Regions from separate parts of the Homo sapiens genome. Here all the other regions are linked to region 3. Evidence: fine-mapped expression QTL. A gene starts in region 3. Each other region holds a variant in brackets. All regions are shown on one strand. Distances are between the middles of the regions.

Region 1 (8,179 bases), 84 kb after region 3:
TGTGTCCTCTTGCTCCTCCTCCAGCTTCCGGATCACTGGGAGGTGCTGCTGTCGTGGCTTTTTCCCTCCATTTGTCAGGCTCACAGGGCTTGTCAGGTGAGATATACACTTGTCCCACCCAGCCCGAGGCCAGAAAACTGGGTGTGTTTGGCTGTGAGCCCAGTGAGAGTGGGCCATCTCTGAGCGTGGGTGCTTCTCTTCCCAGAGTCTGGCATCCACAGACAGTGTTGGCCAGGCCTGCCCACAGTGTTGACTGGCATTTGGACTGGCACCTTCAATGTCCCCTGACCCCCCAGTGCAGAAAGCACTGGCCTAAGGACTGGAGCAGGGGAAGGGAAGATGCAGACCATCCGTCCTCCCACCCCCCACACCAGGCTGTGCTCCCTATCAGAATCCAGCAAAGCACAGAGGAGTGCCCTAATGCCAAACACAGGTCCACAGGTGGGGTGGGATGGCGGGAAAGGAGAGAAGCTGGAAAGAATGAACAGCTCCCACACTCAACATCCCCTTCCTTTTCCTTTTCTTTCCATCTGGGAAAATATATTTAATTCTCTCAAATGATCTCACAATATCAACACATAAGCACAGACCAAACTACCCACCCCTTGCATTCCCAGCGTCGGTGGTCCAGGAGGGAACTGACTGCAGAGACTGTTCCAGCCCCGCTCCTGCCATGCCCCTGAGTTGACAGGGAGAGGTCTCCCTAACCCAGGCAGCAGAGGACAAAATGTGGCAGTCTCTGGCCTGAATCCAGTAAGCAGTGCTCAATCCAGCCACCCCTAGGCTGCATGGCCTCAGGGCTGGGACTGGGGACGGGAAGTCTCAGTTCCTCCTAGCAAGAGAGGAATGCCCAACGCAAGAAGGAAATGCTTTGTGATAAATGTCCAGTGCTAGAGGCTGGGCTCTTTCAAGAAGTGAGTAATCTCAATGTTGTCATCTGGCGAATGGGTGTATGGCAAGTTTCCTGGTTCGGAACTTTTCTTTCTTTTTAATAAAAGTTGCCATCAGCTCCTTCTTTATCCAGCTGGTTAAGAACAGGTCTTCTTTGTTCAGGAAACTGTCCTTTGAGTGGTCCCTCTTGGCTATTCACATGTTAGGCTAGTGGGGCAAGGGGGAACTGGTTCCTGGGTGGCCTGAGGAGTGCAGGACCCTCTAGTCCCTACATGGAAGAGCAGGGAGATAATTTGCTTGGGGCCAAGGAACATCTGGGAAGAAAGAGATGAAGACAAAGACGTTTGCCGTGTTAAAGTTGGAATTTTCCTGATGAAGTTTGAGATGAAGTGCCCCAGGAATAGAATCCCCACAGCCCCTCAAGGGAATGGCACCAGGAAGAAAGGGGGTCAGAGTTGGTGACCAGGCTCAACCCCAGGGCCTCCATATTCCTGTGGCATGGAGTGTGGCTGAGGACAGAAGCCCTCCTGGGCTCAGCTCTACCAGGGCTGTGCGCTATTTGGGAGCCTGGCTAACCTTGGAAGTATGAGCTTACAAGAGCAGTGGCCTTGGAGCCCAAAGTTGGCACACCTCTGTGGACCACATAAGGGTCAGGACCAGTGAGGCAGGATCTCATCAGACTTTGCAAGACCATTTTCTTTAGAGACACATGGTACTGTGCAAGAAACAATGGAAATCAGGACCTCCTGACTCTCCAGTTTCTCTCTGATTGCCATTTGCAATCAGAATTACCTGTAGGACCAAGTTTGGCCCCAATTTCCTTGGGGGAGTGGGTGAGGAATAAGGGGTAAGAAGGGGTAAAGAGGCATGACTTCCTGTTAATATGGGCGTATGGGAGCTCAAGCAATTATTGAATAAATAAGAGGGATTACATTTGCACCCCAAACTGGGGAACTGTGCTTGCTTAGGAAAAAGCCCAGAAAGTTATACAACAAAAAGTTATTAGTCATTGCCTCCAGCTGGTAAGATATCAAGGGATGCCCTTCTTTTTCCTTTCTATATATCTGTATTTTCTGTTTTCTCCCCATGGTGATTATGAAGTGATTTGAGTTATTAAAAACACTTTACAGTAGCTCAAAAAAACTATTATTATGTAGAGGCCCCAAGAAAAAGCACATTATGTCTGCTTTCATTTATTCCAAGAGGTAGAGAAGAATATATTATGTTTTGGAAAGATTTTTCTTAATCCAAGTGGTTAAAAGAGAAAAGTTAGGTGCCTACTGATATGTGTTCAATTGCCTGGAAAAAAAATCAATTACATGGCAGTTTAACCTGCGGTGATGAGAGAGCCCAAGCCACACATGGACTCATTCAAGGGGCTGGGAAGACAAGATTCGGGTGGGGCAAGTCGTGAACAGGATTTTCAGGTCTCTATGGGGTTGCCCTAGGGTAGAGGGAGCCCAGGGCCTATCATGTGCAGAAGTTACAAGTGACCAAACCAAGCAGGCCATAAAAGGCAGGCATTTCCAGCAGCCTGGCAGGCACGTCCCTGAATGGAATGTCTTAGGAGATGCTGTAATGAAATGACCTCAAACTTCTATCAACAAAGATGTTTTGTCTGCTGGTTATTATGTCATCATCAACATGACGGGAAAGTCTGTGAGGATGAGGAATAAGGAGAGAAATGGTGGGACAACTGAGCCAGCCAAGAGACCCCTAAGAGAGAAGATAAGGAGGGCATGGCCCGTTTGAAAGGGTGGGTGTCCAGTTGGTGTAGACATGAAGAGATAGGGAGGTCTGGCTGGTGTAGAAATGGGAAGGCAGGGGGAGGGGAGGGTCACCTCAGAAACAGGAGCTTCGGGAAAGGGAGTGTGACATTCAAGCACTAGACCCTCTAATGCATACCTGCAAATTAGTGCCACCTCGCCCTAGGGGATGTGGGTGAGTGGAAAGTGAGCTGGATTTCATTCCTCCACTTGCTTCCTTGGCCATCTGCCCTTGTTCAGTAGACAATCCACACACATGTACCTGGGGGCCCAGGGCAGCCACAGCACAGTAATAAATGTGTTGTCAGTCTGCAAATCACCTCAGTCAGCAGCTGGGGTACAGGAGCAGGATGAGACCTCGGTGAGGAGGCCAGCCACCATGCATGGCATGGTAACAGTGCCCAGGGAAGCAGGCTGAGGTCCAGGGCAGAGTTCTAAGGCCAGTGGTGGGTTGGAATGAAAAGCAGGGAAACTGAGGCAGAATTCCTTTTGTATGGGCAGAGGCAAATGGAAGGGGTGGGTGACTTTGAGGCTCTCCATGTTCCCAGAGCACATCTTGGGCCACAAGGCTCATTCCAAGCCCTTCTGGAATAAGCTGCCTGCAGAAATCCTGCCTGTTTTGGCTGGGAGGGGTCCATAACATGGGTAAGCAGAGCGGGCTGTGGAGCCTCAGCGAACCCACCACAGGCCAGGACCAACAGGGCTGACCAGCTATGAGACCTGCTTACTGCTTTGGTTGTCCTTTATGGCAGTGGTGTTCAAATTTGAGCATGCATCAGAATCATCTGGAGGGCTTGAGGGATCCCAAAACAAAGTGTGTGATTTGGTAGGTCTCAGGTGGGGCCTGAGGATTTGCATTTTTTATTTCTCCCAAGTTCTCAGGTGATGCTTTAGAAACCACGTTCCAGGGATGCCTTATTTCTGAAGCCCAAGGCTTCCATGAAAACCTTGATTGCTTGTTCCTCCTTGATTTTCTTTTCAGCCCCAGAGCCTCAGAGGGTTCCCGTTAACAGTACCCCTCCAGGCTTCTCTGAGGTTGCAGCTCGATCTCATTTTCCTGGCAGAAATTGACACCTGTTTCTTCCCTTCTACTCTGGACTTTAAAGCAATGGATCTCTTAGAGAAAGAATTAGCCATGCCCCGATTTGGGTAGAGGGAGGGGCTGGGGGCCATCCCAGACCTCCTGTTGTCTCCAGTGCCTCAGCACCTATGGGGCAGCCCTGGACCCGGCGGAATCTGGAGATTGATTTCCAGGACCCTGCTGGGCAGGCGTAAGGGTAAGGGCTTAGTTACTGGCAGAGCAGCGATGATTTGCCCTAAGATCCTAACTGAGCCCTAAATCCTTTCATTAAAGTTCTAAATGAATCACAGCCTCTGAACTAGAACAAACGCCAGCGGGGCATCTCTCAGGTCTCAGTTTCCCCAGCTGTAAGTGAGGCTGCTCCAGATGTTCCCTGAGATAGCTTTTGGCTCTAGCATTCTTGATTCCGAGGAGGACAATGGGTCAGAGGAAAGAGAGGGCTCATCAGGGTTTGCTGGGAAAGGGGTGGAGCTGAAGGTGATGTCAGCCGTGGTGAGCTGG[G/A]CCTGGAAAAGCAGCGTGAGTCACCGGGCATGACGAGGGGCAGGATGGAGAGCCAGGGAAAGGCTTTAATGGGGAGTCATGTGGTCAAACCATCGACTAGGAGGCTGAGGCTGGCAGCCAGCTGGGGTTTGGAGCCAGAGAGGTTGCCTAATGTGCCATTCAGCCTCTTACCCATGGGGCAGGGGCCAGTGCATCATCCCGTGGCTCTGGCCTGGATGTGTTCAGGTTCTGGGCTCTGGAGAGCCATAGGCCCTTGTTGGGAGTGGCCATCCTAGAGGGATGGCTGCCAGGGCCCTGACCTAGCACCATGTGGGCATGGGACTTGGGCCTCTCTGTAACCCAGACCTGCAGCAAATTCCCTACCTGCAAGCAGCCTACCCAGCCTGACCCCCTCGGCCTGACTTTGGTCCTGGGGCTGCCTTGCTCATGTCCCTGTACCTCTGCTTGTCTCTCAGCCCCTCTGAGACAGGGACTGGGACTTGCCTGCTCTTGTAGCCCCCTGCACAGCCCAGCTTAGCACCGTGCTGGACTCCTCATGGGAACTGAGGGAACTATCCACCTCAATCCAAAAGCTACTTTGGAAAGAGACAGGGGCGGAGCTGAGGTCTGACCAGCCCTTCCCACCCCCATGCCTGCTTCTCACTTCTCTGTCATCTCTGCCTTTTGCCAAGACCCTTGGTGCTTTGTGCTGATGGTCACAACGCTGAGATGGGCAGCCCAAACCAGGACTCACAAAGCAGGGGAGATGCACCAATGCCAGCATCCCTTTGCTGACCCCTCTTCCTGGAGGGCACCGGGCTCCGGGCTGACACACCTCAGTTATGGTCTGGCTTGGCCACAGCTAGCTGTGTGTACACGAAGTCCCTCTTCTTCTCCAGGGCCGGCTTCCTCATCTGTAAATTAGGAGCAATTATTCTTGAGCTACTGGGTCACCTGACACAGAGAAGAGGCTCCACCGATGTTTCTATGATTGTTGTCATTAAAAAACATGACAGCCAGAGAGGTTGGCACCGGGGTGTCTGCCATCCCTCGTGTCCTGAGAGCAGGCTCAGCTGGGCCCAGCTGAGATACTGGAGCTGAGAGCCCTGGAGAGATACTGGTGGGTGGGTGGCTGTGCAGGCATCTTTGGGGGAACAGAGTGGGATATGGGGAGGGGGCCGGAGTCCAGGGGGACTCCCAGCCTAGCCTGGGCCATGGGTGGGTGAAGGCCATGCCCCCTCCGCAGGGGCTCTGATCAGGTGGGGGCAGGCTTGGAGGTTATTTGAGGGCACAGGAAATATCTGGAATCTATGAGAATGGGAACTCAGGTCAGAGGTCACCTCAAATTAAAATTGAAAAAGCCCTCTGTGTGAAGGGAATCAAAGGAGGTGAAGACGTTTGCTCTTCCGGAGTCTCCTGAACCCAGATGTTAGCGGTTAAAATTCCTGTGGGGCTAAACGGTGGGCACAGGGAGCCATCTTGGGGCCCGGCAGGGCAGGAGCCCAGGGAACAGTGTGCATTCTCATGTACCCTCCAGGACATTGCCCCAGGGATTATGAGCAGAGCGGGGCCTGTCCCTGCAAAGCCGGGTGCTGTGGGGGGATGGGCACTCTGGGGTCTAGGGCCTCCCGCGGCCCTTCACTCTGGGCTGGCTGCACCCTGGAATGAAACAGGATCTGGCATCCCTGCTCTAGTCTGAGCCAGGACAGCTCATTAGCTGGAGGGCCGTGCTCCTTCAGATTTATGGTCAGGAGCCCCTCATCTGAGGGCCAAGGTCTTTTGATCTGAGCCCAGGGGTAGGGGCAGGGGATTCCTGGGTCTTAATTGGCATCAGCTAGGCTGATGCTGACCAGGACTCTGTCCCAGGCCTCAGCCCGCAGCCCCAGCCCCCCAGGCTGATGCTTATTGGGGGTGGAGGGCTCTGGGAGGAAGACAGGCATGTGCGGAGTTTGTTCCTACTCTGCAGGGCCTCATGGGCAAAAATACCAGGAGGGAATGAACAGCTCAAAAGGATCCTCCCCTCAGCCGCTCCCCAGCCTTGACCCATCCCCGACCCTGATTCTTCCCTTTCCCACTCTGACCTCACCCCAACCAAGTGTCACATCCTATCTGGGGTGGGGCTGGGGGCTGCCATGTACCTGGGCCTGTGCCAGGCACCTTGAGGACACAAGGAAAGTCTAGCAGAAAAGTCAGCTATATACACAACTAGAAAGAATAGATAAAATAATAGGCTGTGCTTTTGATATCTTGGACTTCCCCAGGTCAGGGATGACCATTTACATGAGGGATTTATTGTGTCTTGTTCTTTTGTTTTCGGGCTTAAGGAGGAGTGAGGAAGTATACTCAGGGGATACTTACTTAGAGAGAGAAAGATATTAGGGAGAAGAAGGGGAAGGGAGGAGAGGAAGGGAAGAAGACATTGAGACAGAGGCAGACAGAGAGTGAGACAGGAAAAGAGATTGTCAATCCTGAATCCAGCTGTGTCTCAACCTAGCTGACACGTCCTGGACTTCTCAGGAATGTGGCCCAATAAATTTCCTTTGGGCTCAAGCTAGATGGAGCTGGGCCTCTCTCCTGAACAGTGTGGGCGAGCCACACAGTCAATGGCTGCATTGGTGAATGTGTGCGTTTATTCCAAAGGAGAGGGCAGAGGGAAGGAGAGAAAATGGGACAAGCCTTCTGCCCTCAGAAGCTGACCTTAAGTTAAGGAGCCAGCACTCCAACATGAAAGCCACTGGGAGATGCTATCATTCCAGAGGCAGAGGAGGAATGGGGACAGAGAGGGCAGCAGCAGAGAGCAGAAGGACCGGGCCCAGAGGAATGGGAGAAAGCTTTGTCTTGGTAGCCTGCAGAAGGCTCTGGAAGCAAGCAGAGGAGAGAAACTCCACTGCATAAGAGCCTGGTGACTCAAGAGGGGCCGGGCGCCTTCCCCGTCCTGGGCCAGGAGAGATAAAATATCATCTCATTAAAGGATAGCTTCTTATTATTTATGAAAGATGCGTGTGAGCTTTTTTTTCAGGTAGAGCCCGGGGGGATGAGGATATCAGATAAGGGACCAAGGTCAGGTAATTCAGGCAGCGTACAAATGCACTAAGACTTGAGTGCACTATCTGTAGTCTATTTAAAGCCAGCTCTTCTATGATGCCCTGGTACTGTATTTCTTCAAATTCTCCCTCATTTTTTCTGGTCACTCAGTTTCTTATTTCTTTTAAGGACTGAGCCTTTCTTAAGCGTTTCCTAGGGAGATGACTCTTCCCTCGTGTATCTGGCCAGGCAATATGGGTCACTTCCCAGATCATAGTTTCCAAACTGGAAGGTCTTTACTCTGCCAGCTTCGTTATGGTGTAGTTTGCATACTGTAGAATTTGCTTGTTTTACGCATACAGTTTGATAAGCTCTGCCAAATGGAAATAGCCACCTACCTACCATCAAATGAAACATTGATTTTTTTTATCCCCCCATAAAATTCCCTCATTCCCCATTGCAATCAATCCCCGCTCCCACATCCCACCTCAGGCAAGCCCTGACCTGCTTTCTGGCTGCAGCGTGGCCCTCCCTGGAGTTCAGACGCAGGGAGCGGCGGAGTCTGCAGCCTTTTGAGTTAGGCGGCTTTCATTTAACTGCTGAACTTCAGCGCAGTGCCTTGAGAGTCATCCATGTCATTCATTGTATTACTATTTTGTTCTTCCTTATTGCTGGGGTCATTCCATCATACGGGTGCCCTACAGTTTGTCCATCCACCAGTGATTAATGTTTTTGGAGAGAATGAATAAGGCAGGAGGAGGGCAGCGGGCGTCTGTCCCACACCTAGGGGACCTGTTTACTCTCACCCTGCCCCGAAGGGGTTGCGAGGGAGGGAGGCCAGAGCCTGACCCCATACACAGGACAGTGACAGTTACAAGGCCCAGCACTATGGGAACTGGAGGGTTGGGGGTCAGAAGGGACATCCTGGCCAGCTTTA
Region 2 (8,179 bases), 67 kb after region 3:
TTCTCCTTATGTCATCAGGCAAATTTGGGGGAAAAGAAAAAAGGGATGTATTTCTCACTATGTTATTTATCATTGTTTAAAGGTATGGCCATGTACTATATAAAATAATCTATCATACCACCCCAAATCTCCAGTGATGAGCATTCTACAATTTGGGGAACTTGGTAGAATTATTATCCCTATTTTGCAGTTGGGAAAATAGCTATGATCACAAAGCTAAGAAGCTAAATAATCTTCATTAGTACCAAACCCTGAATCTGCATGGTGCAACCGAAATGAGTATTTCAGGCAAAGAAGAGTAGGTGGGATTCCAGCCGTGAGTCTCCTTCTTTCTGAGGAACTCCCTCATCCTGCTTCCCACTGACACCTCTGCAAGATGCTGGCCCCAGGGTACCCATCCTGCCTCGCTTGGCCTCCTCACACAGGCTAGGTCTTTTACTGACACCATGATGAATCCTGAGTGAGATAAGCAAGGAAATAAACAGAGAAGCCAAGGATCACACACATGATAAACTCCCCTAGCTCACTTCTAACCCACAGATGTGATCTACAGCTCTCTTGCTCCTCAGGCTCCCAGACCATCCCACTCCGCACCCCACCTCATGTGCCTCCCAAACCACTGGCCCGACCCCTCAATTCCTGCTCTCTGGCCTGCCTCCCTGTAGAGGGTGTCATTATTCACCCTGGAACCTGAGGGCTGGTCTCCTTCATTCCTGAACCCCTTTGCTGCCCAAGCCAGGAATTTGGTTCTAACCAGTCTCCTCCATACTAATCTCTCACCTTGTCCTCAGGGAATGCTCAGCCACCTGACCCCCATCACCAAACCCATAGTTTAATGACCCTCTAATCTTTTAATGACCATAGCATCCATTTACCAAGTTGGGCTCTGCCTTGGTCACAGAGCCAGGCACTTGTCCCCCTGAAGAGAAAGGCAGACCTTGCCTGTGACAGACAAAGATGAAGCAGCGGGGAAATGGGGCTGTAGTTAGGTCTTCTTGGAGCCTCGCTGGGAGGCCAGGAACTGTCTGCTGGGTCCACACTCTGTAAGCCAAAGGGAGACCCTGCAGCTCCACTGTCTGCACATTCGAGAGCCTTCCCTGGAGTGGAAGCTTTCTGTGCCTGGCACTTGGACCTGGGGGACCCGCATTTGGCCCCAGGCTTCCTTCTCTGAGCTTCAGTCTCTTCTTCCACAAGACAGTTCAAACATTGCTTACCACAGAAGGTTCCTGAGTATCTCATGTGAACAGCTATGTGAAAGGCTGTGTTCCTATATGATAGTGACCAACTTGATATTATATGTTAACAAAATCCTCTGTACAGCACAATTAAAATTCACAAAATATTTAGTACCAGTCCTAAAAAGAAATGCAAGAAACTTACAAAGAAAACAGTAAAACTTAATGATGGACATAAAAGACCTAAATAAAGGGAGATATATATTCTACTACATTGGGAAATTTCAATATTATAAAAATATCCCTTATAAAATTATCTATAAATTTGGCGCAATCCCAACAACCATCTCACTGGAATTCTTCATTAAAATAGACAGATGATGATTAATATTCACATGGAAAAAATGCATAAGAAAAGACTTTTGAAAAGGAAGAACAGTAAAGGGGAACTTATCCTGCCAGATATCAAAACTATTAAAAATGTGGCCAGGCATGGTGGCCCCCACCTGTAATCCCAGCACTTTGGGAGGCCGAGGTGGGCAGATCACTTGAGGCCAGGAGTTTGAGACCAGCCTGGCCAACATAGCAAAACCCTGTCTCTACAAGAAATACAAAAAATTAGCCGGGCATGGTGGTGTGCACCTGTAATCCCAGCTACTCAGGAGGCTGAGGTACAAGGATCACTTAAACCCAGAAGGTGGAGGCTGCAGTGACCCGAGATGCCGCCATGCACTCCAGCCTGGGTGACAGAGCAAGATTCTGTCAAAAAAAAAAGTATTAAAAAGGTAAATTGAGGCACAACAAAATGTTAATAAGTTTATTTGAGTAGACAGAGATTTATGAATTGGGTTCCAAACCAGAAGTGGTTGGGAAGCTTCACTGAGGGACTACAAGAGGGAGGCTTTTATAGGATGAAAAGGGAAGTAAAGCAAAAAAAATTTGATTGGTTGTAGTTATACACTTGCCTTCTTTGGCTTATCCTGTTGGAAACTGTTCCCAGTTATATAAGTTTGTTGGCTGCTTCCGATTAGTTGAGCTTAAATTCTATTTTTCTTTGACATAGGCATTTGGGGCCAGGTATAGTGGCTCACACCTGTAATCCCAGCACTTCAGGAGGCTGAGGCAGGATGATTGCTTGAACCCATGAGATCGAGGCTGCAGTGAGCCAAGATGGCACTACTATACTCCAGCCTGGGCAACAGAGCAAGACCCTGTCTCAAAAAAAAAAAAGTATTTATAAGAAATGGCCCAGGTTAAGTTTCACTCATGTTTACAAATCAAACAAGGTTAAGGTCACTTATCCTAACTGCCTTTGTCTGTGTAGGGATTCTTCAGGTCTGGTCTCCATTTTAATTTACTTTAACAAAACATATTATGAAGTTAGAGAATTAAAAATAATATAGGATTAAATAGACAAATAGACCAAAGTAATAGGATAGTGAGTGCACAAACAGACCCTCGAATATGTAGAAACTTAGTGTATGATACAGTTGGTATTTCAGATGAGTGACAAAACATTCAATTAAATATTTTAGGAGAAACAACTGCAGAAAATGAAAGTCAAGTTTAATTTCTACTTCACACCAGTCATAATAATAAATTCCAGGTTACTTAAAGAACTAAATATATCTTTTTAAACTGCAAAAGAATTAGGATAAAATGTAGGAGATTGTTTTTGTGGTTTTGTGATAAAGCATATGAAGTAAATAATATATACACATACTTTTTTTGAAAAAGAAGAACTAAGTGGGAATTAGTCTACCCAATTCCAAGATGTTATATAGCTATGATAATTAGGACTGTGTGATATTGGTGGAGGGATGGAAGCATAAATCAATGGGAAAGGATGGAAAATCCAGAAATAGACCTACACAGATATGCGCAACCGAGTTTTGAAAAAGATGCAAACGCAATCCAATGGATGAAGGATAGCCTTGTAAACAAATGGTCCTGGAACCACTGAACATCCATAGGTAAAAGTGAACCTTGACCTAGACTCCAGGCTGTATAAAAAAATTAACTCAAAATGAATCACAAACATAAATGTGAAACCTAAAACTACAAAACTTTTAGGAAGAAAATACATGGGAGAAACATTTTTGTGGTTTTGGGCTAGACAGAGTTCTCAGCCTTGACACCAAAAGTATTATCCATAAAAGGAAACATCAATAAATTGGGCTTCATCAAAACTGAAAACTTTTGCTTTGTGAAAGACCCTGTACAGAGAATAAAAAGACAATCTAAAGATTGGGAGAAGATATTTGCAAAACACAGAGGACTAGAGCCTAGAATACATACATTTCTCTCAAAACTGAACAATAAAAAACAAAGAATCGAATTCAAAAATGGGCAAAAGACATGAACAGACATTTAGCCAAAGAGAGTGTACTCCTGGTACTCCTGGTTATAAGCACATGAAAAGATGGTCAACATCCTTAGCCATTAGGAAAGTGCCAAGACAACCACATGAGATATCAACACACATCTATCAAAATGGCTAAAATAAAAAATAGTGACAACATCAAATGCTGACCAGGATATGAAGAAATTGGATCACTTATACTTCGCAGATGGGAATGTAAAATGGCATAGCCACTGGAAAATCATTTGGAAGTTTCTTAAAAAACTAGGTGTGCAACTATCACAAGTCTTAACAATTGTACTTTTCAATGTTTATCCCAGGGATATGAAAACTTATGTTCACACAAAAACTTGTACAAAAATATCTGCAAACTGGAAACAACCCAGATATCCTTCAATGAATGAATGGTTAAGCAAATGGAGTGCAAGCACACCATGGATTACTTCTCAGCAATAAAAGGGAAGAAGCTATCGATACACAAAACCACCTGAATGAATCTTCAGGGCATTATGTTGGCTGAAAAAAAGTCAATCTCAAAAGGTCCCATACAGTTGATTCTATTTATATAACATTCTTGAAATGACAAAATTATAGAAATGGAGAGCAGACTAGTGGTTGCCAGAGTTAAAGAGGGGATGGCAGTGGACAAAGGAGTGGGGGAAAGAGAAGTGGGTGTGGTTCTAAAAGGGCAACACAAGGGCTCTTTGTGGTGGGGAAATCATTCTGTATCTTGACTGTATCAACGTCGAGTCCAATATCAGTGTCCTAGTTGTGATATTCCAAGATGTTACCATTGGGGGAAACCGGATTAAGGGAACATGGATCTTCCTGTATTACTTCTTACAACTGCATGTGAAGCTACAATTATCTCAAAATTAAGACTTTAATTTAAAAAACTACAAAAGAATTAGAAGAAAATATAGGATATTATTTTTATGAATTAGTGATAGGGAAAGCTTGTGCAATAAGGCACTTAATATAAAAGCATTAAGGAAGATATGAATAAATTTAACGACATCAAAG[A/G]GTACCATCAACATGACCCAGTGCAGTGGTTCACACCTGTAATCCCAGCACTTTAGGAAGCTGAGAGGGGAGGATTGCTTGAGTCCAGGAGTTGGAGACCAGCCTGGTCAATAGAGTGAGACCCTGTCTCCACAAAAAAAAAAAGCCAGGTGTAGTGGTGCATATGTGTGGTTTCAGCTACTTGAGAGGCTGAAGCGGGAGGATCACTTGAGCCCAGGAGTTTGAGACTACAGTAAGCTGTGATTGCACTACTGTACTCCAGCCTGGGTGACAGAGTGAGACTCTGTCTCTTAAAAAAAAAAAAAGACACCATCAACAAAATTGAAAACTAGCAACCAACTAAAAAAATTGTAATAATTACAATATACAAACAACATTCAAAATATGTAAAAATCTGCTATAAGTCAATATGAAAAAGTAAACAATGCTTAGGAAAACAGGAAAAGAATATGAAAGGAAAAATCACAAGAGGAGAGATTCAAATGGCCAAAAATCTATGGGAAGCTGCAATATCCCTGATAATAAAGGAAATGTAAATTAAAATAATGAAAAAACATTTTTTATTCGACCAGACAAGCAAAATAGTAAGTTTGATTGAATGTAGGGCAGATGAAGATGTGGGCAGTAGTCTCATATTCTGCTGATGGGAGTATCAATTGGTAAAGTCACTTTGGAGGGCAATTTGATAGAATCTATTAAAACTTCTATTTCCCTTATGATCCAGCAAATCTACTTCTTGGTGTACCTCTGGAGAAACAGTCATGTGTGCACGAGGCAGCAGGCAAAGAATCCTTGCTGCAGCTTTCTAGTAAAGAACTGGAAATGACCTAGCTGTCATCACTGGGGAATGGCTGAATAAACTCTGGTGCATCCATTCTGTGGAATACTGAACGTACAGCACACAGGAAAGACACAAAGCAAGTTGCTAAATAATACACAGAGAATGATAGACACCATTAATGTAAGCACACACACACACACACAACTTCTGGAGGTAATTTTCATTTTATATGCATAACCACAAACCTCAAATGGTCATGCAACACAGCCGGGTAATTCTAAAATGTTTCTCTACTAAGTTTCTTTTCTCTGTCTAAAATGATTATTTCGTACATTCTCGCTCTTCCCATCCCCCACATCCTCTCCCCACGTCACATCCAGCTGATGACCTTTCTTAACACTTCAACCAAAAAAACCCAGAAGCCCTCAGCCAGGGACAACTGTGCCTCCCACGATGAAATCGCCAATCCTCCTTGAATATGTGCCAACAACAATTTTCCCTCACCCTGCCAACCTCTCAGCCTCCCTCCTGCTCCTTTCAAAGGACAATCCCTTCACCTGCTATCACCTTGCTGAGGACTTTGCTCCTGCAATTATCCTCTCTCTCCTGCATCATTAGATTCCCCCTCCCTACTCTGTCATTCTTGTCAGTACACAAACATGCTCCAGTATTTCCCATATTCAAAAACAAATCTCCTTTCACACATACCTTTCTCACTATGTCTTTGCTCAATGGGGTAGACAGACAACTGTCCACCAAAAATCCACGGCCTCTTTGCACAGTGTAGTGCTGCTGCTGGCAGTGGCTGCCCAGCCAAGGACCACACTTCCTGGCTCCTTTTGCATACTCATGAGAACATGTGACTGAGGTCTGGATAACAGAATGTGGGCAGAAGTGGTGTACGCAACTTCCAGGTATGGCCCATAAAATTCTTCTACACGATCCTCCATATTCTCTTTCCTCTTCTGCCAGGTTGATGTTGACACCTAGGGCAACTAAGGGTGCTGTGTGTTGAAGAAGATGTCTAGGCCATAAGGTAAGTGCTTAGATCCCTGAATAACTGTATGGAGCAGAGCTCTATCCTCACTTCTCCCACTCCTATCACTGATTGGAATTTAAAAGAGAAGAAATAAACTTCTATTTAGTCAAGCTAAATAGATTTTGGTGGTTTATGTGTTACAACATCTGGCCTTATCTTAATTAATACACCATTTATAACAAGATTTCTCAAAAGGGTTGCCTCTATTTCCTGGAGCCAGATCAACCAGTTTTGTCTGGGTTCAAATTCCAGTTTTGTCATTTCCTAATGTGTGTGATCTTGGACAAATTACTTAAAGATCTATTCCTTATCTGTAAAATAGGATAATAATTGTACCTATCTCAAAGGGCTGTTGCACAGATTAATATATGTAAAGCACTTAGATCAGTGTCTGGCACATAGTAAGTTTTATATAAGTTCAGCTATTATTATCATGTTAAGCCACTCACGCCCATTCCAGCTCCCTTCTGTCTCCACCACTCTACTGAAACTGCTCTTGTCAAGATGGGCTCTATGCTGCAAAATGCAAATGTACATTTCTCTTGCCTCGCTTAATTCAACTCTCAGCAGCAACTGACACAGGTGTCCGCTGCCTCATTTAAAAAAGTATCATGGAAGATTGCAAACACACACAAATGTATTTCCTTTTTGAAATAATTTTCTTCCTTTTCTGGTTGCAGCTCTGTGCAGTGAGGATCTCTAATGTATGCCTGTAGCCATGCTGTCCAAGGGCCCACTGCAGTATGCGCAGGTCTTTGGATGCAAGAAAAGGGCCACAGCTGTGGCGCCCGGCAAACACAGCAATGGCCTCATCAAGGTGAATGGGTGGCACCTGGAGATGATCGAGCTGCATATGCTACAATACAAGCTGCTGGAACCACTTCTGCTCTGGGCAAAGAGCGATTTGCTGGTGTGAACATTTGTGTTCATGTGAAGGGTGGTAGTCATGTGGCCCAGATTTGTGCTGTCCATCAGTCCATCTCCAAAGCCCTGGTGGCCTATTACCAGAAATATATGGATGAGGCTTCCAAGAAGGATATCAAAGACACCCTCATCCAGAATGACCAGACCTTGCTGGTAGCTGGCCTCCTTCGCTGTGAGTCCAAAAAGTTTGGAAGCTCTGGTGCCTGTGCTCGCTACTAGAAATCCTACCAATAGGCCAGGCACAGTGGTGCACACCTGTAATCCCAGCACTTTGGGAGGCTGAGGTGGGCGGATCACCTGAGGTCAGGAGTTCGAGACCAGCCTGGCCAACATGGTGAAACCCTGTCTCTACAAAACTACAAAAATTAGCTGAGCCTGATGGCGGGTGCCTGTAATCCTGGCTACTTGGGAGGCTGAGATGGAAGAATCACTTGAATCTGGGAGGTGGAGGTTGCAGCGAGCCAAGATTGTGCTATTGCATTCCAGCCTGGGCAAGAGAGTGAGACTCCATTTCAAAAGAAAGAAAGAAAGAGAGAGAGAGAGAGAGAGAGAAGAAAGAGAGAAAGAAATCCTAGCAATAAGCTCATCACAAGGATCAGGATTAACTTGTATAATAAACGATGTTTGAGGGATTTTTAAGTTTCAAAAAAAAAAGAAAAAAAAGAATTTTCTTCTTGGATGTTATGATTTTTCACTCTCTTCAGCCTCTTCACCCCACTTCTCTGGCCATCCCTTCTCAAGGTCCTCTGCTGGCTCCTCCTGCTCTTCTCAACCTCTAAATGTTGGTATGTCCTGGGCTATATTGAATGTCCTTCTGTAGCCGTATTTCCTTCCTGGATGATCATGAAATATCGTGAGGACTCCCACTGTTCTAT
Region 3 (8,151 bases):
TCCTTCCTTTCCTTCCTTTTTTCTTTCTCTTCCTTTTTCCTTTCTCTCTTTTCCTTCCTTTCTTCCTTCCTTCCCTCGTTCTCTCTTTCCTTCCCTTCCTTCCTTCCTTCCTTTCTTCTTTCTTTCTCTCTCTGTCTCTTTCTCTCTTTCTCTCGAGTGCAGTAGCACAATCTTGGCTAACTGCAACCTCTGTCTCCCAGGTTCAAGGGATTCTTGTGCCTCAGCCTCCCGAGTAGCTGGGATTATGGACATGTGCCACCACACCAGGCTAATTATTGTACTTTTAGTAGAGATGGGGTTTCACCATGTTAGCCAGGCTGGTCTCGAACTCCTGGCCTCAAGTGATCCATCCACTTTGGCTTCCCAAAGTGCTGGGATTATATGCATGAGCCACCGCACCCAGCCAGGATACCATTTTCATGGAAGACACTGAATCATGCTTCCTGGAACTGGGTAATGCTCCATCTCTAGACATATTTATCAAATAAATGAACTATACTCCACTCTCCTCCTCCAAAACAAAAAAGTTATTCCCATAGACAAAGGGTTCCTAGGCCTCCCTAGGATGATGGGCACCATGAGGTGATAAAAGTGGTCCCTTACGGGGATCGCTTTGGGGAAGTAGATACTCTGATTTGGATGTGTAAATTCCAATGATATCTACAAAAGGTGTATTATTCTCTCTCTTTCCTGCTATCAAATATTAGAGGCAACTTAGAAGGCAAGGGAAATTATAAGTTAGAAAGGGACAGTCAGCACAGGGGCAAGGCAGGTTTGAGGTTGAGAGCAGAGAAGCAGGACATAAAGTCCAATCCACTTGCTGCACACTGAATCCCCAGATGATTTGGAGCTGCCAAAGCACGAAAGTGCAGACACACTTGGTTACATATTTCTCAATATCTAAGAATGAACATATGGCCAGGCACAGTGGCTCACGCCTGTAATCCCAGCACTTTTGGAGGCCGAGGTGGGTGGATCTCCTGAGGTCAGGAGTTCGGGACCAGCCTGACCAACATGGTGAAACCCATCTCTACTAAAAATACAGAAGTTAGCCAGGCATCGTGGCGGGTGCCTGTAATCCCAGCTACTTGAGAGGCTGAGGCAGGAGAGTCACTTGAAGCCAGGAGGCGGAGGTTGCAGTGAGCCGAGATCATGCCATTGCTCTCCAGCCTGGGGGACACAGCGAGAGTCCGTCTCAAAAAAAAAAAAAAAAGGATGAACATATTCGTTCCTTAGACGAAACCAAAACTTTCCACTGCTTCTAGGTCTTCATGTCTCACAACAGACCCAAGGACAGCTCCGCAGCCGTGGTGGGTGAGGGGCTTCCTCTGGAGTCCCCCGATGGCACTCAGGGCCATGCCCCTGCACTGGGACCCAGTGAGAGCCAATCCTACGGTGCATTAGAGGAGACATACGCCAGTGTGGCCTTCAGACAGTTCTCTGAAAAACCTCTCCAACATGGCTCCTTCTAGCCTACACCTCTTTTTTGGGCAGGAATTGTCCCCAAACTTAACATACAGTCTGGGGCTGGGAAACTGGCTGGGCTGCCTCCTAGAGGCTCTTTGTAGCAGCATCTTCAAAGCCATTCCTCTCACCGTCCTCCTGAGGCACCTCTTCTTCCTTTTTCCAGTTGTCCTCCCCATACTCTTCTGAGATGATTCACTTAGTCTTATACAGAAGAATGAATTCATCAGTGTATTTTTAGGATTAGAATTGCTGGCAAGTGAGAGAAAATTCAGAGAAACAGTGTCCTAAACAAACAAAAAGAGACATTTTCCCATCATGTATAAGTCTGCGTGGGCAGTCCAGGGATGACGCTATACTCCATGGGGCAGGGACCCATGCTTCCTTTAACTTGTTCCTCTGCTGTGGATGGCCTCTGTTCCCATGTTCACTTCATGGTCCAAGAAGGCTGCTTCAGAGGCAGCCATCAGATCTGTATTCCGCCCAGGAGAAAACAGAAAAGGGAAGGAGAGCATGCTTGACACCTTTCTGAAAGTGCATGTACCACTTCTGCTCATGTGCCACTGGCAAGACCCTAATCATGTGGCTACGCGTGGCTGTAAGAGAGGCAGGGAAAGGTAATCTTTATTTTAAATAGCCATAAGCCCAATTGAAATTTAAGGAATCTCTTACTGAGAAAGAGGAAAACAGATGTGATAAGTAAACAGAAGTGTCTGCCCAACCAGTCGGCAACTAAAGGCTTCAGCAAAACATTTCCTAATGGGAAGGATGGTCAGACTCAAACAGCAATAAGATATAATTTTACTTGCATCAGCTGGCAAAATATAAAAGGCCCAACACCAAGTCATAGGAGGATGTAGAAAAATGGAAATGCTCATAACTGCTGTTGGGAGTGTAAATTACTATAAGCCCTTTGGAGAGCAATTTGCTTAGAGCAATTGCTTACAACAATTCCTGAGAAAGTTGAAGATGTTTATACCTATAATCCAGAGCTCTACTTCTAGAGAAAGCCTCACACATGCACTCAAGAAGACAAGTATAAGGGCCAGGCACGGTGGCTCACGCCTGTAATCCCAGCGCTTTGGGAGGCCGAGACGGGTGTATCACCTGAGGTTGGGAGTTCAAGACCAGCCTGACCAATATGGTGAAACCTTGTCTCTACTAAAAATACAAAATAAATAAATAAATAAAAAATTAGCCGGCCTGTGGTGGCGTGCGACTGTAATCCCAGCTATTTAGGAGGCTGAGGCGGGAGAATTGTTTGAACCCGAGAGGTCGAGGCGATTCTCCCTGCCTCAGCCTCCCGAGTAGCTGGGATTATAGGCACCTGCCACCATATCCGGCTAATTTTTGTATTTTTAGTAGAGATGGGGATTCACCGTGTTAGCCAGGCTGGTCGAGAACTCCTGACCTCAGGTGATCTGCCCGCCTCGGCCTCCCAAAGTGCTGGGGTTACAGGCGTGAGCCATCGCGCTTGGCCGTGAGTGACTTTTAAAAAATGAAAAGACTCCATCAAATCCTCCCTGACCCCAGTTTCCTCTGTTGTGAGCAGTAGAGAAAGGTAAGATTCCAAAATTCCTATTTTTCCACCATACTGGGTTGAAGGGATCTGTGGAGCCACCCTCTGGTAGAGGTAGAACCTTCGAAAAGGGCATTTTTAATCCACAGGGACTCCTCGAGCTCGGCTGGACCTCCGTGGTGCCGTGCTGTGAGACCATCCATCACTCAGGCACTCAGCGAGCCCACATCGGCCCCCAAGAACCCTGATGAAGGTCTTCCTGCCCCCTAGACAGACTTGGGGAGACGGACACCCCAAAAGCGAGAGCTCTTTGAGGTCAAACAGGTGCTCAGGAGCAGGGGTACAAGCAGGCCATCATCTTTTAGTGCTGTGAGGAGGAGTGGGGGGATGAGATGGGGACGCAGGAGGCTGCTCGGCTCCAGAGCCTGCTCCACGGTGGAAGGTGGAGGAGAGTCCAGGGTCCCACGGTCAGTCCCTGCGTGGCCCAGGAAGGTTTAATTCTTTTAAAGAGGAACACTGGACACTTCCCGATATTTTCTTGGTCCCCAGCTCAGGCCGACCCAAGTTCTTGCCTTCCGCCTAGGGAAGACAGGGGAGGACGACGCCATCTTTGGTCTCAGGGCCCAGGTGCGAAGGTCGTTTGGCACCATCTCTCCTGCCTGCCAGATGTGGGCAGGGCCCGTCCGGTTCTTCCCCTTTGCTCTCTCGGCCGTTTCCCCTACACCCGCAGGCCTTCCACAGCTTTTTGAACTGAGGCCCAGGGCCTCGCAGGGGATCTCGAAGGAGCAGCAACTGCACGGTGCTCCTCAGATCCGCGTGCCCGAGGTCACCGGGGAACAAAGAAGTTACTTATTTTTCCTTTTAGCTCAGATGAAGAGAGAGGGCGTTGTCTTCCACAGAAAAACGCTGCGAACTCCGCCCCCGTCCCCCTTTTTCTTGCAGCCCTTCCGTGCGGGTGCAGCTGTTTAAACTAAGGCCCCAAGTCTCCAGCACTTTGTGGAGTGCAGGAAGAACGCGAGCGTACGGGAGAATCTGGGCCGGCGGGGCGCAGCGAGCCGCATCGCAGCTGGAGGACAGCCGGGGTGTGTCTGTGTGTGTTTGCCCGTCGGTTGAAGGCCCCATCGCCCCCGGGTCCCCGCCCTGCCCCAGAAAGCGTTCCCCAAGAGAGCTAGGAGTCCTGCGCACCTGGAGCGCGCTCCGCGTCCACGCCCAGAGGGCGCTGCACACTCGCGCCCGAGGACTGCCTGCCCCCCTTCAGCCCCTCTCCCGGGCTGCGCCTCCGCACTCCGGGCCCGGGCAGAAGGGGGTGCGCCTCGGCCCCACCACCCAGGGAGCAGCCGAGCTGAAAGGCCGGGAACCGCGGCTTGCGGGGACCACAGCTCCCGAAAGCGACGTTCGGCCACCGGAGGAGCGGGAGCCAAGCAGGCAAGAACCTTAGGAGCGGGCCGGGGGTGGGGCGTTCCGAAGGGGCCGGGAGGGGTGGCTGGGGGGCGGGGTCCTGGGGGGTGTGGACTGGGGCTGGCCGGGAGACCTGGCGGAGCTGGGGGTGGGGGGCCAGTTTTTGCAACGGCTAAGGAAGGGCCTGTGGGTTTATTATAAGGCGGAGCTCGGCGGGAGAGGTGCGGGCCGAATCCGAGCCGAGCGGAGAGGAATCCGGCAGTAGAGAGCGGACTCCAGCCGGCGGACCCTGCAGCCCTCGCCTGGGACAGCGGCGCGCTGGGCAGGCGCCCAAGAGAGCATCGAGCAGCGGAACCCGCGAAGCCGGCCCGCAGCCGCGACCCGCGCAGCCTGCCGCTCTCCCGCCGCCGGTCCGGGCAGCATGAGGCGCGCGGCGCTCTGGCTCTGGCTGTGCGCGCTGGCGCTGAGCCTGCAGCCGGCCCTGCCGGTGAGTGCGGCCGGCGGCCAGGCGGGGAGGCGGCGGGAAGCCGGGACTGGTCACCCGCGGATGCCGGCGGGTGCACGTGGAGGGGGAGGGGGAGCGAAGACTTCCCTTCTTCCCGCGCTAGCCCAGCGGGTCCCGGGACGGTGAGCCCCGAGACCAGGGCTCCAGCCCCAATTTCCTCCGCTGTCGGTGGGTGCCGCACCGGTCCCGCGCTGGGGAGGGTGGGGGGCCGGGGCCCCGCGCTCAATTATGTAAAACGTCTCCACATCTGTCGGAGCCCGCCAGCCCACAGCGGCGCCCGGGGTCGCCCGTTCCCACCCTCCTCGCCCCGGCCACCGCGGCGGCCGGGCCCCCGTCGGTGACCCGGGGGGATGCAGTGACCGCGGCCACAACGCCCCCCCTGCAGACCCTAATTCAAACCAGACCCGCGGGCTTGCGCCCCAGCGCCGCCGAGCCCGGGCGCCCCGCCCCTTGCGCCAGGGCAAGTTTGGGCGCAGCGCGGCCGGCGCGGGAGCGGGAGGCGGCCGCGTTGGCCCGGGGAGCCGGGCCAGGGCTGCGTGGGGGGCGCGGGCGAGCGTCTGCAGGGCCCTCGGGCTTGCCGTGGGCGGCTCGAGGTGAGCTGAGCCGGCCCGGCAGCGGGAGGTTCCGGGAAGTTGGCCTCGGAACGCTGGAGACCCGGAGGAGCCCAACTTCTGGGCTGCTGAAGTTGAGCTGGCCCCGGAGGGCGCGTTCCCGTGCCGGGCACGGCCGAGGCGCAGGCGCCTTCCACGCGAGGGGACCCGGGAATGGCCTCCCGCTCCCCGGCTCGGCTTTGTGCTGAAGCCGCGCGGAGGGAAGGCGGGTCCCTTGGCCCGCCCAGTGCAGCTGGGAGAAAAGAGGGGCAGATGTGGAGCTCGGGGCTGTAAGAGGCCTTTGGGTGGGATGCAGCATCCACCTTCAGCGGGGCTGACGCTCCACTAAAGAGGGACGTGGCCGACAAAGAGCAGCCTGAGGGTCCCCAGAAAGTGGCTCTCCCGCCCCGGCCACCGGCCGCTAGCCCGCCTTCCCCAATGGGGGCGCTTTGTTCTCGGCCCCTGTAACCCTTTCCTGGGAACAGCCCCGTAACGCCGGCCTTGACGGGGGCTGGGACCTGGGCCGCAGCCAGGTGTCAGCGCGGGCCGCCCGGTGCCCGAGTCTGCCGCCCGAGTTCGCCTCCCCAGCCCCCGCGCCCGGTGCTGGCGTCCCGGGGTCCCTCCTGCGGGCCGGCTCGGCCATCCCCAGGGATGCAGAGGGGAGGTGCGGAGCCAGGGGCGCTTCCCCTTCCGGAAGTGGCGGTGTCTCGCCACTACATCTGGACAGTTCGACTTCCCCAGCTCTGGCAAAGGGAGGCACGTGGGCAGGGAAGGGGCGGGGGCGGGGTGGGCACTCGGGTTCTCCACTGCTAATGTGGCATCTGGACAAGTCTCAGCAGCGCTGACCCTCCGTAAGCGTTGCCTCGTGTAGTAGCTGCCAGTTATTGAGCGCTTTGGTTTTTTTTTTCTTTACAGAGTCTGTCTCATGGGAGATGAGGTAGGGACAGTCGTTTCTGAGACCGATGTGTAAAGCGCCCTCCCTGCTTCCCAGGTGACTCGTGCTTCCAGACATTTTCCGGTCCAGGAGAGGTCCCTGTGCCTATTGAACTGTGAATGGGCTGGACTGTGAGGGGTATCTGGGAGCACGGGGAGGGCCATGATTTCCGAGCTGGGTCTCATGCACTCCTGGCTTTCAGGTCCAAGAAGCTGCTCTCTAGGGTGGTGGTTTCTGTGGAACTGAGACTGTGCTTGGAGTCTTCGCTCCGAGTTTGGAGAAGAGAATGGAGCTGGGTGCCTTACCTCCCTGGACCGCTGGGCATCACCTCACTGCCCCATTCTCGCACATGATGGGGCCTCAGCAGGGGCGGCTGAAGTTGGGTCCTCCACCTATTTCCGGCTGGATTTAGGAGGGCTGCTGGTTCCCTTGCCTGCCTGGGGTAAAGCAGACATTCCAGAGCCCTGGGATCCCACCGCACCCGTTAATGCTGGGGAGGCAGGTGGAGTTTGGGCTTCCCCGTGAACTGCCTTTCCTGGAGTTTTCTGTGGGCTGGGGCAGATGCTGCAGTGTGAGGCATTATTTCTTGCCCAGAAACTTGGACATAGGGCCCAGGAGGCAGGAGAGTCTCAAAAGGGGAAAGGAGGGAGACTCCCTGGAGCTGCAGGGAGGGAAGGCTTCCTGGAGGAGGTGCTTGAGCTGAGCCTGAAAGCCCCACCTGAGCTTTGGGGTCAGACTCTGGCTTGAAGCTTAGGTGTTCTTTTTGCTTTTTCTGATCTTACAAAGATTAGTTTGTTTTCTCTTTCCCAGTTCTGCCCTCTTCCTCTTACAGTGAATGTCCATGTTAGGTTAAAGGTGGGGGCATGCACTGCCTTCCCAAAGCTCTGATACCCCTTTCCTAAAAGAAATCAGGCAGCTGGGATTTGCTTTAAGATGGGAGAAGGTATTTGCAAGTGGCAGAGATCTGACCCTCTCTGAAAGTTCACTCTGGCCCCAGTGGGAAGCAGGTCAGAAACCCCCTGGGGACCAGGGAAGCAAGGAGTGACTGAATGGGTGAGGGGAGGCTGCTAGGAGAGGAGGTTGCTCAAAACCACTCCCAAGAGACTAAAACAGGTTTGTCTAAAAAGGTTTCTCTCTCTCTTTCTCTCTGTGTGTGTGTGTGTGTGTGTGTTTACTGTGGTCTTTTGTTTCTGCCATGTAAGAAAAATGGCTTGTTCTGGAATAGTTATTTGCTATTTTTCATTCTTTCTCTCTTCTCTTTCTTGAAAGGCATAAAATCCCTTTTGCCCTAATTATGGGGGCTAGTAGAGACATTTTCCCACAGCCTGGCAGAGAGGGTATGGGGGGAGGCACTAGCTGCCTCCGCTCAGGCTCAGAGCCTTCTAGAAGTGATGTCATCCCTGGCTTCAGCTCTACAGGGAGGGTGGAGCGGTTTAAGTCTCTACCTGTGGCTCATGATGGGTTCCAGTAAAACCTCATTAACACACATTGGTAGGGAGACAGTAAGAAAGGAGAGAGCCTGGAAAGAATTAATGAAAAGCTTGACTTCTGCAGTTTTTTAGAGGAATCTTTTCTGTTGCAGCAGAATTTTGGATTCCTGAAATCCCTTGGGAATGAGGTGTCCTGTGTATTCATATTTTTTCATCAAGCTAAGAATCCCTATTACCCTCGAGTATTCTTACTCTGGGCATGACTCTCTGAAGTATTTATTTCCCTTCCTTTATCAACCAAAAAATGCTAG

What was found. PIP is the estimated chance that this variant, and not a neighbour inherited with it, causes the effect. A credible set is the group of variants that fine-mapping cannot tell apart.
Region 1: its variant is the best candidate, but not a certain one, in a credible set for the expression of SDC1 in tibial artery (GTEx, PIP 0.85).
Region 2: its variant is the best candidate, but not a certain one, in a credible set for the expression of SDC1 in fibroblasts (GTEx, PIP 0.69).

The regions. Positions count from the first base shown.
Region 1 is chr2:20,137,701-20,145,879 of GRCh38, reverse strand. No RefSeq gene overlaps it. Among named protein-coding and RNA genes, the nearest start is that of SDC1, 83 kb to the left of the region's middle. RefSeq lists enhancers at 106-265, 4,017-4,601, 8,083-8,179. The variant G/A (reference allele first, on the strand shown) is at 4,240.
Region 2 is chr2:20,154,977-20,163,155 of GRCh38, reverse strand. It overlaps the pseudogene RPS16P2. Among named protein-coding and RNA genes, the nearest start is that of SDC1, 66 kb to the left of the region's middle. RefSeq lists a silencer at 5,497-5,586. The variant A/G (reference allele first, on the strand shown) is at 4,561.
Region 3 is chr2:20,221,519-20,229,669 of GRCh38, reverse strand. SDC1 (syndecan 1) reads left to right here and starts at 4,540. Exons shown (of 5, transcript NM_002997.5): 1 at 4,540-4,868. The coding sequence starts at 4,803. RefSeq lists enhancers at 3,213-3,892, 3,893-4,572, 6,332-6,838, 6,839-7,346 and silencers at 4,124-4,503, 4,564-4,983, 5,024-5,083, 5,104-5,563, 5,974-6,173.